3 linked regions of the Homo sapiens genome follow. The protein of the gene in region 1 interacts with the protein of each later gene in a biochemical or structural test. Each region holds a gene or a part of one and is shown in the gene's direction. Other genes may lie near its edges. The genes, in order: DTNA, SYNM and DRP2.

Region 1 (7,110 bases):
AAGATCCAGGACCCTGACTTTACCTCATTGATCATCCACAAGACCAGGCTTCCTCTTCACTACACGAGTCAGAAAACCCTTCCCTGTAAATCAAGTGCCTTCCACCCAGAAAACTGTAATTCATAGAAAGTTTTCTTCTTCTGTAGGAAGTTAATCAAGTGTTTGTCATTACATCTTTATCCTCACCGTGTCTTTGATTTTCAAATATCTTACACCAAAATCCGAAAGTTTTAGTGATAATATAAATTGGTAAATTTCTAGCTAGATAAATGAATATACGCACACCCCAACTTTATAGTAAAACTCTCATTGTGTTTCAAATGAAGTCAGCGTCTCTCTCATATATACAAAAATTTCTCTTGTTGAGCTACATGAGAGTTAATAGTTGACCTCAAAACAAAAATGTAGTGTCTTATTAAAGACATTTAATAAGTGTCTCTCTCATTAAAATGTTAACTTTACCCAAATTACTTGTGATTGCTATGTGCCAGAATCATCTACAAAAAGAAACCAGAGAAAACATTATGCCAGGAATATTTCAGCATAAAAATTAGCTTTTATATTATTCTTTCATAAAAAATGTTTATTTTGCTACTTTTTTGTCATTTGTAGCAGATATATTGAACAAAAACAGTGGAGAATGTTCATGTGATGAATAATATCTTTCCTTTTCCTTTCATCAGATATTTTCTCAATGATTTCTGACTCCAGTGGGGTGATGGTTTATGGACGATATGACCAATTCCTTCGGGAAGTTCTCAAACTACCCACGGCAGTTTTTGAAGGTCCTTCATTTGGTTACACAGAACAGTCAGCCAGATCCTGTTTCTCCCAACAGGTAGGAGAAAAATATGTTTAAGGAAGTATCTCTTTCAAACAGTGGTTGCTCTCCTTCTAGATGTCATTCCAGGTCACAGATACTCAGACAAATTATTCTGTGTGATAGCAACCTGTATTGTATTTTTCAGCCTCTGGCAAATGACCTCTGAGCCAGTAACTAAACCCAGCACATCTGGATCACAATAATAGACAGTGTTTACTGACCATGAGGCAGGCACTGTGCTAAATTTTTTCCTTTCATTGTCTAATTTAATCCCTACAACAACCCTTCTGTGTTAGTCTCTTTTCACACTGCTATAAAGACATACCCGAGACTGGGTAATTTATAAAGAAAAGAGGTTTAACAGACTCACAGTTCCGCCTCAGGAAACTTACAATCCTGGTGGAAGGTGAAGGGAAGCAAAGACCTACCTTCTTCACATGGCGACAGGAAAGAGAAAGAATGAAAAGCCCAGGGGAATCTGCCATTTATAACACCATCGGATCTCCTGAGAACTCCCTCACTATCATGAAAACAGCATGGGGGAACCACCCCATGATCCAATCACCTCCCACCAGGTCTCTCCCTCAACACCTGGGAATTACAGTTCAAGATGGGATTGGGTGGGGACACAAAGCCTTACCATATCACCTACACCCTCAGTGTCATTATTTTTACTATCACTGCACTTTCAAAAGGGCTTAATTGTCTCACTCAGCCTCATGTGAAATATATGCTTGACCCGGCAACAAGCTTTAACATTGGTTTAGCAAAGGATACCAGAAAGGAATCCCAACATCTGCCACATCATGACCTGAGAGGCCCAAAATATGGTAAACACAGCTGCCTGAATCTTCTACAGCATGACACATTTGGGGTTCCAAGTGATGTGTTTTAACTGGGTATGGCTCAAGCTACCCTGGGAAGCTGCATAGTTTAGGGGGCTATCTATGTGTGTACCTCTCTGGTCATGTAGAGAGACTCCAGGCCCATTCTCCAGCGTAGCCCAGTGGTAGCATAGAAATCCATACATTAAAGGTTAGTTTACCATTTTTTGAGAATCCAAACTAACTTTTTTGTCCTCTAAAAATGCCTCTTGACTGGGTGTGGTGGCTCACTCCTATAATCCCAGGACTTTGGGAGGCCGAGGCTCAGGAGCTCAGGAGTTCAAAACCAGTGTGAGCAACATAGGGAAACCCCATTTCTACGAAAAATTTTTAAAACATAGCCAGGCATGGTGGTACATGCTTGTAGTCCTAGCTTCTCAGGAGGCTGAGGCAGGAGGATAGCTTAAGCCCGGATGGCGCCACTGCATTCCAGCCTGGGCGACAGAGCAAGGCCCTGTCTCAAAAAAAAAAAAAAAGGTATATCCCTGCCCCATAAAATGCATACAACAAATGCTCACTACACAGCTTTATGGATTAAGAGTCAGGAAGTCTTTTCTTTTTACTGAAATTAACTTTTAAAAGTGTCAATAGGCCGGGTGAGGTGGCTCACTCCTGTAAGCCCAGCACTTTGGGAGGCCAAGGCGGGCGGATCACAAGGTCAGGAGTTTGAGACCAGCCTGTCCAATATGTTGAAACCCCGTCTCTACTAAAAATACAAAAATTAGCCGGGCATGGTGGCAGGCACCTGTAGTCCCAGCTAGAAGCAGGAGAATTGCTTGAACCCGTGAGGCAGAGGTTGCAGTGAGCCAAGATTGTGCCACTGCACTCCAGCCTGGGAGACAAAGCAAGACTCCATCTCAAAAAAAAAAAAAAAAAAAAAGTCAATCACTTCAAAACACAAATCTATTTTTTCATTCAATTTTACTGCTTTCCAACTTTTCTCATGGCATGCTAAATGTATGGCTCCTTTTATTTTTACAGTGCTTTATGCCTCACAAAGTGAATTATCTGATTTATGGCTTGCAACAACCCTGTGACCTAACAAGGAAAATATGATTCTTTTTTAACAATATAAAGTTCATAGCTAGTGAGGGCAGGGGGCTGAGTTTTTAACTCTGGTCTTCTAATTCCATCTGTTAATGTTATTCTTGTGTTCTTGTTGTTGTTGCTTTTGTTTTGTGCACTTTCAGTTCATATTTACAAATATGCAGATGATCTGACTCAAGGAAATGTAACTACCTGTTGTATTACTTCACCCAGTCATGGAAACAAGAATAATTTCATTTATAACTGAATTCTTGAATTTTAGTTAGTGTATTATAGAATAATTGGTAAATGTGCTAATGCCTCAGAATATATGTCTCATTCAAAATCAGCTAGAATAATAGGACTGGGTTTTAAAAAAAAAATCTTAAAAGGACCTATGCTGGTGTGATGGCTCACACAGTAATCCTAGCACTGAGAGGCTGAGGCAGGAGGAGAGCTTGAGTCCAGCAGTTCAAGACCAGCCTGGACAACATAGTAAGATCTCATCTCTGAAAAAAAAAAAAAATTAAACAATTAGCCAGGTGTGGTGGCACACACTTATAGTCCCAGCTACTTGGGAGGCTGAGATGAGAGGATCCCTTTAGCCCAGGTGTTCAAGGTTGCAGTGAGCTATAATTGTGCCACTGCACTCCAGCCTGGGCAGCAGAGTGAGATCCTGTCTCTAAAAGAAAAAAAAAAGAGAAAAAAGGACCTATGTGTTCAAGAATTATATGTGATGTTGACATGTTCAAAATTCCTTTTGAAATATCCTATAGACTGTTCTGTTATATGATTTATATATATCCTTAATGATAAGCAACTTATACATGTTGAAATCATAATAGCATTGTTGGAAACTTCCAGGAGTGCTTTTTAGCAAGTATGACAAATAGTCAAAATGAATAAGATCATTTCAAATATGAAAAGAGGTAACACAAAAATAATAAGACCAGTTTATTTTTGTACTTAATGAATTGGCTATTAACAGCTACTCAAGAGTCTGAGGTAGGTAGGAGGAGGTAGGAAGACAGCTTGAGACCAGGAGTTAGAGTCCAGCCTGGGCAACATAATGAGACCCCATCTTTCAAGCAAATAAATAAAATATTTTAAAAAATAAATAAATAAAATTATCCCATCCCCTTTGATATTCTAGTTCAAAATTTCAAGTAGTGATTTTTGCATATAAATATGTATTTTTTTATTTATACCATTACAGTACATGTATTAATATAGCTTTCTTACTTTTATCATTTTGAAAGAAACTTATAGATACAATGCATTCCTTTTGTACATCCAAAAGGACCTGGATAGTGAGAAAGAAGCAGACTGAATTGAGAGGAATTATATATAAAGTAATAAAAGGAGCAAATTTTTAAAAATGTAGATGGTTCTGTCCTAACAGGATTCCCTCCTGCTCTTGTATAACAGAACCATTCACATTAACCACTAAATATTTAGTACTTAAGGAAGTTGAGGAAGCTCAGAAGGGAAGTTGTTCTATAAATTTAGAAGACTGACTGACAGGAAAATTGTAGAGTGAGCTATGATGCGTTCTTGAGTAAAATTCCATGGAGAATTTCCATTCTTTATTTTGCTTCATTATTTTTATACTGTCTTTCATATATACAAATGATGCTCTTGGAATTGTTTTTCTCCTGGTGATACTATTGACTCAGCCTCAGTGGAGAGAATTCAGTCCTATGTCTGCTTAGGTATAAAAAGCAAACGATGTTTTCAGTTCTAAACTAGTTTAATAACACATTTGGCAAGTTCTGTTTCTTCAGATATTAGACATTTATTGAGTGCTCTTTTGTTTCAGTCTCAAATGATATGATATTTACATAGCAGGTAAATTGAGATGATTCTCTGTCCTAAATTTATGGGGGGTTTTTTTATGCAGAAAAAAGTCACGTTAAATGGTTTCTTGGACACGCTTATGTCAGATCCTCCCCCGCAGTGTCTGGTCTGGTTGCCTCTTCTGCATCGACTAGCAAATGTGGAAAATGGTGAGTAGTTACTAAGGAGCAAAGGTGATTTTTTAAATTATTGAAATTAGGCCATTAGTTCTACAGTTAGTAAGCCCAGGCTGTTGTTTTAGGGAAGCCTATTTAGTGGCTCTTAGTTTTGTTTAGGGTAGAACTAACCCATCTCCCTGTTCGGGAAGGCCTTAAAGGACCACTGAAAAATTAGGACTGTCAGTTCCAAAAATAAATCTCATGGTCTTCTTCTCAATTACAAGTCAGGTGTGGTTAAAAGACTTGGCACGATAGAAGGCGAACTTCAACAAGGAGTGTGACATTATTTTGTATTTGTTTTAGATCCGAATTTCTCATATTTGCATACACGGTACTGATTATTTCTTCCCAGGCACTCAGCCAGAAATAGGTGGGAGAAATGAGAAAAAAAAATAGATGATAGCACCCTGTTAATCTTTAGTCATATGTTCCAGATTGTGAGCTTTCAATAGTTGTACTTACGTTAAAGATAAGAGTAAAATAACTTTCGTATCATGTCTTTTTTTAAAGCAAGTATTTCTAGGATAAAAGGAACTACTGTTGGCATATCCAGATTTAAATATGAAATACCATTTGGGGCAAAATTTACAGAAAATTAAACATGGAGCAGTTCAGTGCCTCCATCTAATCTTTAGGTGTTCCTACTTATTGTTCAATGTAACTCTGAAATTTCTCCAGACTTGACGAGGAAATAATTTAGTCTCTATCTCTTACTGAGATTTAACTTAAGTCTCTATATATTACTCAACTTCTGTGTATTTCTTTAATATACATTGCAGCTAAAGTTAGCTTAATTTTAAATTATCATTCAGAATTTTTAGCATCTGCCCTTATTTATCTGTTAGTTAGAAGTTATGAATTTATCCTGTTTTTCTCATGGAGAAAATTTAAAGAATGAATTTATTTTATTTTTTTGCAATCACTAACAATCATAGTTTTTTTATGTTTATCCATATGCAGAAGCGAAGAGCAATCAAGGTCCATGTTATTATGCAAAATGAGTTCACGTTACTGTTTACAGTTCTAGAACTAGTCATTTTCCAATCATAAAGCTATAATTTCTTTCGTTCTCTCTCAGCATTTCCTGCTGCAGGAGATCAGTTTCTTAGGCACCATCCCAGAACAGTTGTCCCTAGATTGAAGTCCCACTCTAGTCTTTCTCAAGAGCCGGGAAGAAAGGTTATGACACTTGTTTAGAAGACAATGCGTCCAGAGCTAGTTATGTCTTTGTTTTTACACTTTGCTTTTTATCTTCATTTATTATTATTTTCATTGTTTTTCCTGACTGGTTAGGCCGGAGAATAGCTTTACCAAAGGCAAGAATTGTTATTGTTGTTTTAGTATCTAGCTCATAGCATGTAGACAATTACTTGGATTTGATCACTTAAATCTAATATTTTACTTTGCTTCAAATCTAGTATTTTGCTTTGCCTGCTTTATAATTCAAATTTCCTACCAAAGAAAGTTAACCGTCTCTTGAGGCATTTGAATTATTTAGAACTGTTTTCAGATAATTTGCACATCTTTTTTAGGGCCCTATACACCTGCCTCAGGAAAGAAAAAAAAATCTGTTTGTCAGATGTAGGCAACACCACTCGTTAAGTAAGCCATTAGTCACTCTATTTTTTAAAAAATAACTTAATTATCTCATCCACACCAGTTTTCCATTCTCTGCCCATCTTCCTTTCTTTTTTCTTCCTCTCATTCTCCGTGTCTCTGATATTCGCTCTCTTCCCACTGGACAATCAGCATTCACCCCTTGTGCTTCTGAGTCTTCCAGTGAGCTGTGCTGGTCTCCTGGAGACAGAGAGCAGTTTGGGGTAAAGGCAAGTCTGTTTGGCTAATTTAAATTCTTGTAATGTGAGAGATGGGAATAGAAAGAGCAAATGGCATTACAGAGATTTTTGTTGTTAAAAGGACACCTCTTCTCCATCCCATTTCATTTCATTTCCCCACAGGCATGATTGAAAAGGGTTGTAAGATTCCAGGAATGAACTAAATGTTTCTCTGAGCCCAAATCAACTATCATCTGAAATCGTGGTGCAGAGAAGAAAGGTGCAATTCCTGTAAGGCTGTATTTTTCCTTCTTCTGGTTCATACTTTTGTTTTCTTGGTTTTTCTTCACTTACTTCCCCCTTAGTCTTCCATCCGGTTGAGTGTTCCTACTGCCACAGTGAGAGTATGATGGGATTTCGCTACCGATGCCAACAGTGTCACAATTACCAGCTCTGTCAGGACTGCTTCTGGAGGGGACATGCCGGTGGTTCTCATAGCAACCAGCACCAAATGAAAGAGTACACGTCATGGGTAAGGCAAGGTCCAGGCAATACTTGGAGTTGGATGTGTGAGTGTTGCCCAGAGT
Region 2 (7,110 bases), on another chromosome or scaffold:
GGAGTGCAGTGGCTGATCTCGGCACACCGCAACATCCGCTTCCTGGGCTCAAGTGATTCTCGTGCCTCAGCCTCCCGAGTAGCTGGGAGTACAGGATCCCACCACCCCGCCTGGCTAATTTTTGTATTTTTAGTAGATACAGGGTTTCACCATGTTGGCCAGCCTGGTCTCAAACTCCTGACCTCAAGTGATCCACCGGCCGTGGCCTCCCACAGTGCTGAAATTACAGGTGTGAGCCATGTGCCCGGCCATTTTTTTTTTCCAGTTCCAATTTGCAGAGGTTTTACTGCACTAAGTGTTACCAGTCACTACCTTGTCCATATACTGAATCTTCCCTCAGTTAACTTAAGTCAACTCCATTTCAAATTGCATTCCAGAAGATTCAGCACCAATCACAGAGATGCTAGGAAGTATGTGAAAGAGGGAGTATGGATGATTTAACCCCAAGCCTGTAATTTTTTTCGGGTTCTGTAGAAGCTTACTATGGGGAGAGTGAAAAAATCCTAAAAATGGGTTGAATTAGTATATGGTAATAAATATCTTATTACTAAGAGCCTTTAGCAAGTGCTTCGTGTGTGCCAGGTACCACAGATGCCCTTCACAAATATTCACTCTCAGTGCCCACACCAGTGTTACGAAGTGGGTACTAATATAAGCTCCATTTTACAGAGGAGGAAGCTGAGGCACATAAGTCACCTGATTAGTAAGTAGTTAAGCCAGGATTCAACTCAGGCTCTAGTGCCTGAGCAACTGACCGCTGGGCGTCCGTTTCTCTCTTCTGTCTGTTTGATCAGAGAGAAACCTTTAACCAGTATTCTTGCATTCATAGCATAATGATAATTGCTCTTCCTAAGGGCTAGCCCGAGGTACTCTGCTGATTTCAAGTCCTAAAATGCTTTTAGACCCCTCCAGCTGGCTGAATAGTTTTGGCATTAAAACTATTTTCTTTCATTTCTTTTTTTCTGTGTTCCATGTGCTTTAATGCCCCCCTCCCCTGGAGGCAGGAGCTGGAGGCAGCAGAGGGTGCTGCCACATTGTGCCCAGCTCTCCCTGCCTCTGGCTATAGCTTCTGTGGCTCAAGGGGGAAGATGCTTGCTAGGATTCTACTTGAGGGGAAACTGGTCCTTCCCAGATGGCCCATGCGCCTTCACTGTATGAGGCGGTAGTCATTGGCCTGCCCCAGGCCTGGCCTCAGATTTGCCCGAGAAGAGTTTGCTGAACTGACATCCAAGTTCCCAAATGTGATCTAGATCACTTGAAGCCTGAGTGACACACCCAGGCTGCAGGAGGGGGCTTCAGAAAACACTTGAAGACATTTGCGATAAAGTGGAGACCAGCTTCACCCTGCAAACACGGAGATTTTTGCTTATGAAAGTGAGCCCTTAGCTGCTGAGGCTGACTGGAAAAGGCTTCCAAGCCCCCAAAACATGATTGAATGAAAGCTTTTTGTAGATGGGAAGGTGGGGTGGGATTAGGATGGGATTAGCTAAGGGTCAGTGCTCTGCAGCTGTCCTACCTGGCCCTGAATTCTGACTCTGCCGCTCTTTGGGCAGGTTACGTTCCTTAACCTGTCTGCAATTCAGTTTCCCCATTTGTGAAACGAGGTACTGGAAGTAGCTCCCAGGGTGTGTACAACTGGTTCATTCGTTCAGCTAACAGCCGTTGAGCATTTAGTGTGCCAAGCTCAGTTCTTCATGGTTGCAGATTCAGCAGTGAAAAATGCCACGTAAAACAAAGAAAGTCCCTTGACCTGAGAGGCCTTCAGGTGGAAACAGCGTGTGGTTTTTCGGGGATGCCTCAGCCAGGCTGCCGGTGTGGCTAGGGCACAGTGAACAGGGGGTAGAGTGGCCACTGCAGGACTTGGGCATTTACTTTGAGTGCCATGGGAAGCCACTGGAGGTTCTGAGCCGAGGAGAGTTGGGGCCTGGCTGTGGCTTAGTGGAATCACTGTTGCTGCTGTTTTAAAAATAGACTGAGTGGACTCAGGGATGCCTTCAGAGATTGTTGCAGTAACCCAGGCAGGAAGTGCTCGAGGCTTGGACCAGGGGTCTCAGAGGGGCCCCTGCGTTCAAGTTGAAGCCAACGGCATTTGCTGCCAGATTGAATGTGATGGGAGAGGGAGAAATCACAGTGGACTTCAGGCGTTGTGGCCTGAGCAACTGGAAGAAGGGACTTTCCTTGTTTTACGTGGCATTTTTCACTGCTGAATCCGCAGCCATGAAGAACTGCGCTTGGCACACTAAATGCTCAACGGCTGGTAGTTGAACGAATGAACCAATTGTATACACCCTGGGAGCTACTTCCGGTACCTCTTATACGCTTTACTGCGGGGCATTGGTTAGGAGGACGGGCCTGGGTGGGAGATTCAAGTTCCATGTACGTGTGTTCAGTTTGAGATGCTTCTTACACACCCACCTGGAATTGTAAAATATAACTTGAGTTCAGGGTGCTGTCTGGGCTAAGCTATAAATACTTCGTCGGCATCCAGTTCGTGCTTATTGTTATGAATACATTTAATTTTTGTGTGTAGCTGAAGTTATCACAGTATTTAAATCCCCTGGAGCTCTACCTTTCAAGGTTGCAAATGACAGTGATATTTGTGAACTGTCCCACAGGCTTGCTCAGTGAGCGGTAGCTCAAGTTTGGCTAAGAGAAAATTAATTCTTTTGATACTGACAGCAGCATGCCTTTCCTGGTGTGGAGCAAGATTTCATCATCGGTTGTGATGCTGCCCAAAAGTTCTCTAAATAGCAAAAAGGTGACCTCTCTCCCAAGCTTTTGCAGCATTAGGTGAAACTGCCTCTGCTCGGGTGAGATGTAGCGTCCCGTGTCTGGGGCTCCAGTGCCTCTGTCCTGACCCACAGCTTGCTGACTGGCCAAGCAGAGCCCAAGTCTGAAGTTTTATTCCACAGCAGGATTTGTTGTGATTTCTGCAGAGACCACTGGGAGCCAGTTAAGTCTTATATTCCTGCTTCCAAACGTCAACTAATTTTCCTTTGACAATTTAGGAGGAGCTGACTCACATGGAAATGTGACTGAAACTGTACTTATTCCAACTTCAACACAGTTTGATTTTCCTCTTTGTATTTTGTGGGTGCAGAACTATTCTGTGTGCTCTGGGAGGAGTATCTTCCTGCACACCCCTTCCACGTGACTAGGCTTTCTTGACCTGCTCAGGAGGTTTGTGGTTGGAGAGCTTTCATCGTATTTTTTTTCTAAGCAGTTTAACAACATTTGAACTTCTTTGTAAGGAATAAATTACTATAAATTTTTAATTTGTAATAGTTATGTCAAATTTCCTGTAGTAGGAAGGACACACATACATACATACATGCATACCTACAGCCCATCTTGTATGAGAACCTTGTACCTGAATTGTATTCCCTCTAAAACAGGGGAATGTAGGATTTTGACATTGAGATTTAACTCTAGAATGTGTGAATATTGTGGCTAAATTGTGGCAGTGCTGTCACTTACATCAAGACTGGCAGTTGCTCTTTGGTGAGCTTCTCTGTTTGTAATGCCAGCTGTGGGATCTGTTATCGTTTTTCCACCCTGGGACATAAGCCAGTGATTTTTAAGTTTACTTCTTTGCTTTAAAAGCTAAGGGGTTTTAAACTACTTCAGGACCCTTTATATTCAGGGAACCTAACAGCCATCATTGGCATAGAAATAGAACTGTTATGAGAAGTGGGAATATTTATTGGCTGATCATGCATTTTAAAAAATGATAAATTCTGGCTGGGTGCAGTGGCTTGTGCCTATAATCCCAGCACTTTGCAAGGCTGAGGCGGGAGGATCACCTGAGGTCAGGAGTTCAAGACCATCCTGGCCAACGTGGTGAAACCCCGTCTCTACTAACAATACAAAAATCAGTTGGGCGTGATGGCAGGCGCCTGTATACAGTCCCAGCTACTTGGGAGGCTGAAGCTGGAGAATCACTTGAACCTGGGAGGTGGAGGCTGCAGTGAGCCGAGATTGTGCCATTGCACTCCAGCCTCGGTGACAGAGCGAGACTGTCTCCAAAAACAAACAAAACAACCAAAAAGATAAATTCCATGTGCAATCTTGTAGAGTTCATTCCTTGGTTTCACAGACATATTTATTATGGACCCTCAGCATCTTGCCGGGTGCCTTTGGTGAAGGGATTCCAGCAGCAATGAACATAATATTCCCTCTCCCAGTAGTCTTACCGTTTTTGAATTCTACAAAGATAAATGTTTATAGGTCTAGCTTAGTTTAGTTAATGATGTTCAGAAATAATGCTACTTCCCATTACAAACCAGAAGTTAAAAGTACATGGACTTATTTCAATGTTTAAATACTTGCTTGGTTAATTGTTCCCCAGAGTAACTAACAACTAGGAATAAAACAAAACTGGAAATCGGTGCAGCTGAAGCCCATATGTTTGTTTGAGAAGATACTGTCGACTTCAAATAGTACATTTTGAGGAGGGTGATATGATCTTGATCATTTCATTTTAAATTTAATTGAGCAGCTATGTGCTGTGTGACTTGTATGTGGTGGGCACTGGTCTAGGTCTGGGATTCAGAAGGCCGCAGTATCTCCCTGCCAGGTAGAGAGGCAGGTCGGGGACCCGGCCAGGGGTGAGGGGAGCTGCGAGGAGCACCCAGGACGCCCTTACTAGCTGCACTGTGCAATTACGGTTCATAAAGCAGTTTTATTTATTTTTATTTTATTTTTTGAGGTGGAGTCTCGCTCTGTCGCTCAGGCTGGAGTGCAGTGGCATGATCTTGGCTCACTGCAACCTCCGCCTACTGAGTTCAAGTGATTCCTGTTCCTCAGCCTCCTGAGTAGCTGGGATTACAGGTCTGCGCCACCATGCCCAGCTATTTTTTGTATTTTCAGTAGAGACAGGGTTTTGCCATATTGGCCAGGCTGGTCTCGAACTCCCGACCTCAAGTGATCCGCCCGCTTCGGCCTCCCAAAGTGTTGGGATTATAGGTGTGAGCCACCACGCTAGGCCCAAAAAGAAGTTTTATATCTGAGTCTGTAGTTTGTCATTTATGCCCAGAATGCATTTCTCCCCAGATGATCTTAAAGTAGCTTTTCTAAGTGAAACAAAACTCTGTATCAGTTTACCTGCTTATTGTTGGAGAAATCATGACTTTGGGGAGTACATTTCAGTTCAATTCTGAGTGACTTATGTTTTGAATATTGTAAAACCCCTGATTTCTAGTCTTGGCTTATTTTCCATAGCGTCTTAGTGACTGGTTTGAAGCACTGGCTCTCCTAAGCAGCCTGATGTCTAAACGGTAGAGATGATTTGAATAAACTCCTAAGCATTCATTATTAATAGAGAGTCTGAACAGAGAAGCCAGTGTCCTATCAAAATGTTCCACATGCAATAAAAAACTTCCATATGGAAGAGATACAACATTGGAAACCATCCTGCAAGTGACTGCATGTTTAATAACGCCGGGTGTTTTTCTGGTCTGCTAATAACCCTGGTCTGTTTTTCAATTCGATCCTGAATTGTTGGTACCTTCAGTTCGACCCAGTAAAGCTCCAGTTCTCTGATATAAAAGTCTGTCTATTCTCTTTAGAGAGTGATTGACTGCCTGGAGGATGAGAAGGCAACCCTCACCTTGGCCATGGCTGACTGGCTGCGGGACTATCAGGACCTCCTGCAGGTGAAGACCGGCCTCAGTCTGGAGGTGGCGACCTACCGGTAAGGAGACTGTGCTGAGTTGGCCTTGACGAAGCCATGGGGGTGTAACTTGCACATGAAGGAAACTGGTCTAGGGACCGTAGCCTTTGTGGAGTCACTGTGGCTTTGTGACAAGCAGAGAGCAGCCCTTGGCATGGCCAGGCAAGGAGTCCGAGGCCAAAAGGAAGAGGAAGAGTAGGGCTTGCTTAGGTCACTGAGCAGGTGTCTCCAGCAAGGGAGTAGCTGAGCCGTGCCCCCTTACCTAGTGTTTGTATGTTCTGGGGACTGCTGAAGAGCTTCACACATGTCAACGTGTTGGATCCTAGGAACTGGAGACTGTGTTTACAGATGAACAGACTTTGCTCAGAGAAGTTACAGAACTGGAAAGTGGAGGGCCAGGATGTGTTAGTGTGTTTTCACACCGCTATAAAGATCCTACCTGAGCCTGGGTAATTTACAAAGGAAAGAGGTTTAATTGACTCACAGTTATTCCGCAGGGCTGGGGAGGCCTCAGGAAACTTACAATCGTGGCGGAAGGCAAAGGAGAAGCAAGAACCTTCTTCAGAAGGTGGCAGGAGAGAGAGAGAGCTCAGGGGAAACTGCCACTTTTAAAGCATCAGATCTCATGAGAACTCACTCCCTATCATGAGAACAGCGTGGGGAAAATTGCTCCCATGATCCAGTCACCTCCCACCAGGTCCCTCCCTCAACACGTGGGGGTTACAAATCGAGATGAGGTTTGGGTGGGGACCCAGAGCCAAACCGTGTCACAGGATTTGGACCCAGGAAGTCTGTGTCTATCTGCTTGATTGTTGCTTTGAATCTCAGGGCTCTGATGCCACCCTGTGTGGGTTTGGCCCTGAACTGAATCTCTTCCAAGAGATTAGCATGGTGCATGCTAATGTAGGCCAACTGGCTTTATGTATCAAGATGTTGACTTGAGTTCAAGGTAACCAACTCTGATGAAAAGGTCACAAAGCGCTCAAAGGGGCTGGGTGCTGGGTGGGGCAGAGAATGCAGTCCAGTCCCCCTGGGTGTGGCCTGCAGGCCGGCGGAACAGTGCTCCTCCCCTCCTTGGCATCACCCTCCTTTCCCCTGGGTGCCAGTGCGTCTTTGATTGAGGTGGTGCCCCTTGTTTCCTGGCAGCTCTCATGCTCAGGGCAGCTATGAAGGAGCCAGGGTCTGTGACGCTTACAGTGGAAGGAATTTTAGAGACCCAGTTGCCCAACTTCAGGAACACTAACAATAGCCAGCTTTATGGCGTCCTTACTGCCTGCCAGACGTGGTGCTGAGTTCTTTGCCACTATTCTCTGCTCCGAGTCAACTCTGAGGTGGGCACCACTCTCCCCTCTTAGAGGTGAGAGAGAGAGGCCGGGAGGTTGGGGCTGCAGGCTGGTGAGGGGCAGAGCCAGCCAGGTCTGGTGCCAAAGCTGTGCCAT
Region 3 (7,110 bases), on another chromosome or scaffold:
CTTTGAGCAGCAGTCTGCAGGCCCTGGGAAACACTGGGCTGAGAGTGACTGTTCTGTTGCAAATAAAGAAAAAACGAACAAAGCCAAAAGTGATATCCCCAAAAGTAGGCCACCTGTTTGGAATTTGTTTTTTTGATGACCCAGCATGGGTGTTCAAAGTGGGCCAAAGAGGAGGATTGTGGAGAGAAGAGGCAAGACAGGTGGTCTCTTGTTTATGTTATGTTTTCCCTTGGAATCTAAACATCTAAAAATGGAGTAGGTGAGTCAGTGGCCCTAATGCCTCCTTTATTTGCAGACTGTGTTTCTGCCTGATTTTAAGGTCAGAATTAATCCCTAAAGCAGCACATCAAAGCCCTGAGACATTTCTTACGCAAAATGTCAACTTTCTCTGCTCTGAGGTCTCAGGATGGCAGAGTAAATGACATATGTGCTGGAGAGGAAGTGGATGTGGCCATTCAAGCAAGAGCACAGCTGGGGGTGGGGATGGGGGTGGGGGTGAGGTAGGGTGGAAGAGCACAGGGATTGTTCACACCTAGGCCTGAGGGGACATCTGAAACCTGGACAGTCAGAGCCCTGTTAGAGCCATAGGTCTTGGTGTCTCTCTCCATGGCAGGATTCTCCAGGGAGAGCTGAGGCGCCTGAAGTGGCAGCATGAGGAGGCAGCTGAGGCACCCAGTCTGGCTGACGGCTCCACTGAGGCAGCAACAGACCACCGCAATGAGGAGCTTCTGGCCGAGGCCCGTATCCTTCGGCAACATAAGAGCCGCCTGGAGACGCGCATGCAGATCCTCGAAGATCACAACAAGCAGCTAGAGTCCCAGCTGCAGCGTCTGAGGGAGCTTCTCCTGCAGGTGAGGATGGAGACAGGAAAAGAGCCAGGGTGGCCTCTGAGCCCAGGGGAAGGGCTGGGGAGCTGAGGGCTGTGGCAAAGAAGACACAAGAGAGAGCTCCTTGGCAGTGGCTGTCAGGTAACTTCCTGAAGAGAACTGGGCCTGCGGTTGGTGGGGGGGCGGGGGAAAGAAGAGACTGGTATGGTCACATCTTCAGCCAACTCTCTTCCACCTACCTTCCATGCCACCCTGTGTGTCACTCTCCAGCCACTGTGGGGCCTGGGGCAGAGAGAAGACTTCTGAGGGCTTATTTCTTCACAACCCATTGGAATCCCATACTAAAAGAACAAACTTCAAAAATCATCTAAAACATTGATTTTGCTAGTATGGTATTTGCTAGAAAGAAGTGGGTTGGGACAAGTTTGGCAAGAGAAAGATTAGTGCTATCTAAAGGTGTTTCTTGTTACTTTTTGCACCTTTCATCTCTGAGAGGCAATGTGTATGCTGTGGTAAAGCTCTGGAGTCAGGCAGCTCTGGGTTTGCATGTGGCTCTGCCAATTGACTGTGGGGTGTTTGGACAGTTAGTTAACCTCTCTAAGCCCCAGTTTCCTCATCTGTACAACAGAGATGGTAACAGTACCAACTTCATAGAATTGTGGTGAACATAAAAGGAGATAATGCATTTATGGAATTTAGCATGATGCCAGGAATTTAGTACACACTTCATAAATGTTACCTATTATTGTCATTATATGTAATGGAAAATACCACTCTTCTGCCTCTTCCCCAGATCCTCCAAGGAATGGCCTCTATGGATTCCTGGAGGTTTCTAACATATGCTATGTCATGAACCAAGGATCAGGTGTGAAACTCTACATTTCCAGAGAGAATTGTGTTCTAAATAGCTTAATTATAGCTGAAATGACAGCAAGAGACCTTTAGGTACAATGCCATTCTTTATTTAATTAATTAATTAATTAATTAATTTTCAAGACAGAGTTTGGCTCTTGTTGCCCAGGCTGGAGTGTAATGGCTCGATCTCAGCTCACTGCAACCTCCGCCTCCCAGGTTCAAGCGATTCTCCTGCCTCAGCCTCCCAAGTAGCTGGGATTATAGGCATGGGCCACCATGCCCGGCTAATTTTGTATTTTTAGTGGAGACGGGGTTTCTCCATGTTGGTTAGGCTGGTCTTGAACTCCTGACCTCAGGTGATCCGCCTGCGTCAGCCTCCCAAAGTGCTGGGATTACAGGCGTGAGCCACCGCGCCCAGCCTACAATGCCATTCTTATAAGAACTGGGAGCCTTTGACACATGTTGTTAAAGGAAGAAGGTAATGGGTAATTCAATATTCTAAGAAGTTTCCTAAAAGTGGAAGCCACTGTTTTAGGTAATACCAAAAGCTTCTTAAAGTCTAAGGGTAAAGGGATGGTATGAAGTCTCTCAGGTCCCTTCTAAGCTCAGGAGTCTGTCAGAGTAAGGTCAGGAAGGCAAATCCACTTAAGTCATGCCTTACCTCTTGCTAGCCACCCACCGAATCAGATGGCAGTGGCTCTGCAGGCTCGTCCCTAGCTTCCTCTCCACAGCAGTCAGAAGGCAGTCACCCCCGGGAGAAGGGACAGACTACTCCAGATACCGAGGCTGCAGGTGAGTTCCCCTGGCCTTTCCCAGCCCCTTTCTCCATGGCTTTGTCCTGCCCTCGATTTCCTGCCCAAGGCTTTGCGGGGCTGGGACTGGTTTCTCCTCTTGGCTTTGTGCTTAGGGTCAGGGATGATTGGTTTACTGATTGATTAATTCATATGCTTATTCCACAAATAAATATACATTGAGCACAACCTATGTATTAGGCATTGTGCTGGGAAGATGCAAATGCTGCGGGCAGGTCTGCCCTTCAGCTGGCAGAATTCTATCTGACCCCTTGGCCTCATAAAGGAGTCTCTAGTTCTCTTCTCAAATCTCTGTTTTTTAACCCAGATGATGTGGGGTCAAAGAGCCAGGATGTCAGCCTGTGCTTGGAGGACATCATGGAGAAACTCCGTCATGCCTTCCCCAGTGTGCGAAGTTCTGATGTGACTGCCAACACCCTGCTGGCCTCTTGATGGAGCCAGATCCCCATCCTATAGTTCATAGTCCTCTCCTGGTTCCGGTCAAAGCCTTTCCTCAGCCTTCACCCAACCTTTCCAGTTTCCACTGGCCCCACATTCCTCAACTAGTATTATTTGGGCTCTGGGCAGCAGCAGGGATCTGGTGGTATGTGAGGTGCATGCGGGCAGTGATGGGAGAAGGGGAGGCATGATTCTTCTGACCCTAGAAATGTTCCCTTTAATCTTCAAGTTCGAGATCAGCCCTTTAAGTACCTTTCTGTTGCAGCCCAGGCAAATATCACTTGGCCATTCAGATGGGGAGCAGAGAAGCTGCCTTGCAGAGCTAAGCGGTACATGTTGGCCCCTCTTCCTTCTCCGTGGAATTATGGAAAGAGAGAAGCCTAATTACCCCAAGGTTCCATCCAGCATTATGAATCCACAGGGTTTACCCCTACTCTCTGGCGCAACTCAGGGAGGCAAAAGGGTATCCCCGAGACACCTTCCCCACCCCAAGTGCCCCTGAAAAAGTCTGGGCAGTGTGTGTTCTATTACTTCAGCTCCAGGACAGATTGCTAGCCATCCTAATGCTACCTAGGTATTGGTTTCTCCTCAAATATCTTCATTTTCTTTAGCCTCAGTCCCTGACAGACCTTCCTTAAGGGGAGAACAGTTCATTCTGGTTCTTCTACGTTATATTTGGAAGCATTAAATCCATACTTATGGGTTTAGATTTTTTTTTTGCCCCACATCTTCCTATTTCTTAAAGTCCTCAGCATTTTGAGAGACCCACTGAGTTGCGAGTTGCTCTGGAAACCTGGCTGAAGCCACCCTTTGCTCCTCTGAGTCTGTCCTCACAGACCTGAGGACACAGTGGCAGCTTGCTGAGCAAGGGAGTGTTGCTTTCCTTGGGTAAGGAAGAGGAAGCCCACCTCAAGTCTGGAGTAGTATGACTGCCATCCAACACCCTTCCAGGCTGTGACCCTTCTAGCTCTCAGGCTGAATCAGGTGAGGTGGCTGATTGTCCCCAGCTAATCATAAGGCATTTGCAACTGGCTACCGTGTGTAGTGGCCCCTCCATAGGAGCCACAGGCCACAAATCAGGAAGCTGGCCACTTTCCACCCAGACAACAACAGCAAGGCCTTCCTGTGCCTAAAATTGTTATTTCTAACTCTGGAAGGTGAATCCAATCCTCAAACTGAACTAGCTCTTCCTAGGCGACATATACCATGATCTCTTTATCCAGAAACTGTTCAGAATAGATAGTAGGGGTGGGGGAGTGGGCTTGGGAATGTTGAATAGATTCAGAGCCCACTTAGGCAGCTTTCTCCCAAGAGGAGCTTTATAACCTAGAGCCCTGCAGTTGACTTCATTTGCCTAAGTTTATATACATACATATCTATTCTACATATCTACTGTACATCAGTGCTCTCCTGGCCTCACTCACACATTAAATTCTAATACCTCTTGAAGTATTAATGTTCTGCCTTGCTCTTTGTTAGCCCCAGCCTCTGGTTGGAAAGATAGATGTATCCTGGCTGTTCCCCTAGGATATCTCTCTCCATTGATGTTTGGGGTGGGCTGTCCTCAAGACCAAAGCAACAGAAACCTGTGGTCACAGAGAATCTAACAGGAAGAGTCACTGTTCTCTTCACTCATTCCAAATCTTGTTCCCTTGAGACCTGGGCCTTGGGTGAATTTTCCTGGGCTCCCCTAAATGGTTCAGGTGCCAAAATAGAGCAAACCCAAGCTCTGCCCACCCCATGCAGAAAAGGACAAACAGGCCTTTATTAGCCTTTGCCAGCTAAGACACAGAGAACATTCTCTGGTCCCTTCCAGCTCTTATGGTCTCACTCAGGGCTAAAGAAAGCAACAGTTGCCACCACAATCAGGAGGGAGTGACGGTTGGGGTGTTGTATTATAATCCAGCAGTGGGCCAGTGGGTAGAACTGCTAGGAACCTAGTTTGATCTGCTGCAGGGGAGGCAGGGCAGTGGCTTGGGTCCAGAAGCTTAGGGTTGCCTCCTCCACCACTAAGTCACAGGTCCAGGGTGTCAGACTTCACAGCATAACATCTGCCTTAGTGTTCATGAGGTCTCTGGGCAGGAGAACTGGGTATCTGGATAGATGGTTGAGCAGGTGGTAGGCGGGCATCAATCATAGAACCTGGGCATCAGTCAGAGTGGGAGCATATTTGTAGAAGCCTAGATTGTGGGCGGGAATGTGGGACGGAGGGCTCAAGGACTTTGGAGGCATATGCCTGCCTAAGCCTTAGGCGGGTACATGTTATGGAGCAATTTTTTACCAGGAAAGTCCTGGAAAATCTTTTCTGTTATCCCCACCCCACCTGAGAGCTCTTGGGCTGCTGAGGGCCTGTGGCAACTGCAGTGGGCCAGGCATGGTAGAAAAGATGTAGATCTTGTTATGTAGGATTTGCGTTGTAGGTGGACTGAAGCAGCAGGTCAAGAGTTGAATTCTCACTAAGGGGTCACTGACATTTTGTGGTCCTGTGTTTACCTTAATGCCTAAGGTGAGTGTATTGTTCAAGGGTCCAGGGACAGTCACTGCAGTATGTGTGGGGAATTTTCCCACAGTAAGGTAAATGGATCCTTGGGTACTATGAATCCAACTTGGGGTTGGATTTACCAAAATGTGTTGTATGTTGTTAGACATCTTGTTGTGTATTAGTCTTCTAAGGATATTGTGCATGGCACTGTGTAGTTTATAGCCCTACACTGGAAGGATGGTGAAGGGAGTTGCTAGATTGATAGCCTAAAGAAAACCTTCTGACTGTGGGATTAGCATCAATGATAAGGAATGTGAGCATTTGCTGGGGTTGTTGTCAAATAGTATCAGAGAACAGTTAGGACTGAGAGGTGATTTCTTCTTGACAGAATTTGATAGAGGCCAAAAAGCCATTACGAGGATACCTCTGCTTCCAGTGACAGCAGAGTGGATTCACATTGATTGGGCATTGTCACGGAAGGCTGACTAGCTGGAGGACATCAGGCTGTGCTATGCTTCCCTAGGGAGGACATGTGCCCTTCCCTCCAGATTAGAAAGGCTAGAATCAAGAGTTTCAAGTGCTCATTTTCTTCAAGGTCCAAGGTTGGGAACTATTTCCCTACAGAGAAATCTGTTTGAGTTTCTGGTGCTCCAGGAAATGGGTTGGCAGGACACAGAAATGAGAAACCCTGAGGCCAGGAAGAGGCCAATCCTAGGAGATGTTTTCCCTCCAGATTCATTTTAAGGAATATCTGTGCTTCCTGATGTGTGTGCTTGAGATTTGGGCTCTATATCCAGCATTTGAACTCACATTCTCAGTGGCAGAGTCATGGTCTGTGGCACCATTTCAAGGCCAAAAATCCCATCCAATTTCCCTTCACATAGATGACAGAAAAGCAAGAAAGTAGCTGCCTTAACTCGAACAGTTCTGGGAAAAAAACTGGGGGCCTTGTCCTGAGGCTGTGGAGACTTAATTCTTCAGCTGGGTGGTTCCCGTAGGAACAAGGAACACTTTAGCTACTTCTTACTCTTTTAACACCAATGGCTGTGGGAGAAGGAAAGGCTCAAGGCCAGGGCTCAGCTCGCAGAGTCCATCTTCTCCCACAGTTGCCACATTTGAGAGGGGGCCTGCTGAATGCCCTTGCTGTCCCCTATGGCAGTATTGAGGCCTGACCGAAGTCTGGTATGCTGCTTGCTGGCTACAAGAACTGGTCACAGGATGAAAATTGGGGAAAGGATTTGGGGGAGGTGACAAGGGTGGCATGGAAGTCTAGGGGACAAAGGGACAGGGTTGGGAACAAATTGGTTAACTTTGATTGCCACTCACTGTGGTGCTTTCCCCCTTTCCCTTGAATTCTGCTTTGAAAAGAATAAATTTGTACTTGTTTACTTTGGTTCCTCTGGTTATACTCTCTGAGTCTGATATTTCATATCTTTCCCTTATTTGGGGGTGGGAAGAGAGGGTAGACCAAGAAGCCACAGAAGTACTGTAAAACATAAGGCTACCAGATGAGTCCAACACCTGTGGGACACAAAAAGACCTCCCCATTGGGCTCATCTGCCACTGTTACCCGGATTAATCACCTCTCAACATCCTCCCAGCCCTCCCCAAATTAGCTAGTTAGCGCCTTATGAGATGAGCTGTATGTAGCAATCGTTTCTAAATTTCATCCTCCTCAATCTGAGGGTTTTTCACC

Evidence for each region.
Region 2: the proteins of DTNA (region 1) and SYNM form a complex in vitro, tested with the Homo sapiens proteins (one study listed by BioGRID).
Region 3: the proteins of DTNA (region 1) and DRP2 form a complex in vitro, tested with the Homo sapiens proteins (one study listed by BioGRID and IntAct).

The regions. Positions count from the first base shown.
Region 1 is NC_000018.10:34,811,276-34,818,385, forward strand, and holds part of DTNA (dystrobrevin alpha), read left to right. Parts: intron 1-683; coding exon 684-838; intron 839-4,633; coding exon 4,634-4,739; intron 4,740-6,686; exon of another isoform or gene 6,687-6,888; coding exon 6,889-7,055; exon of another isoform or gene 7,056-7,110. UniProt on the Homo sapiens protein: May be involved in the formation and stability of synapses as well as being involved in the clustering of nicotinic acetylcholine receptors.
Region 2 is NC_000015.10:99,108,024-99,115,133, forward strand, and holds part of SYNM (synemin), read left to right. Parts: intron 1-5,567; coding exon 5,568-5,692; intron 5,693-7,110. UniProt on the Homo sapiens protein: Type-VI intermediate filament (IF) which plays an important cytoskeletal role within the muscle cell cytoskeleton.
Region 3 is NC_000023.11:101,257,696-101,264,805, forward strand, and holds the end of DRP2 (dystrophin-related protein 2), read left to right. Parts: intron 1-613; coding exon 614-851; intron 852-2,353; coding exon 2,354-2,474; intron 2,475-2,801; coding exon 2,802-2,926; 3' UTR 2,927-6,807; downstream 6,808-7,110. UniProt on the Homo sapiens protein: Required for normal myelination and for normal organization of the cytoplasm and the formation of Cajal bands in myelinating Schwann cells.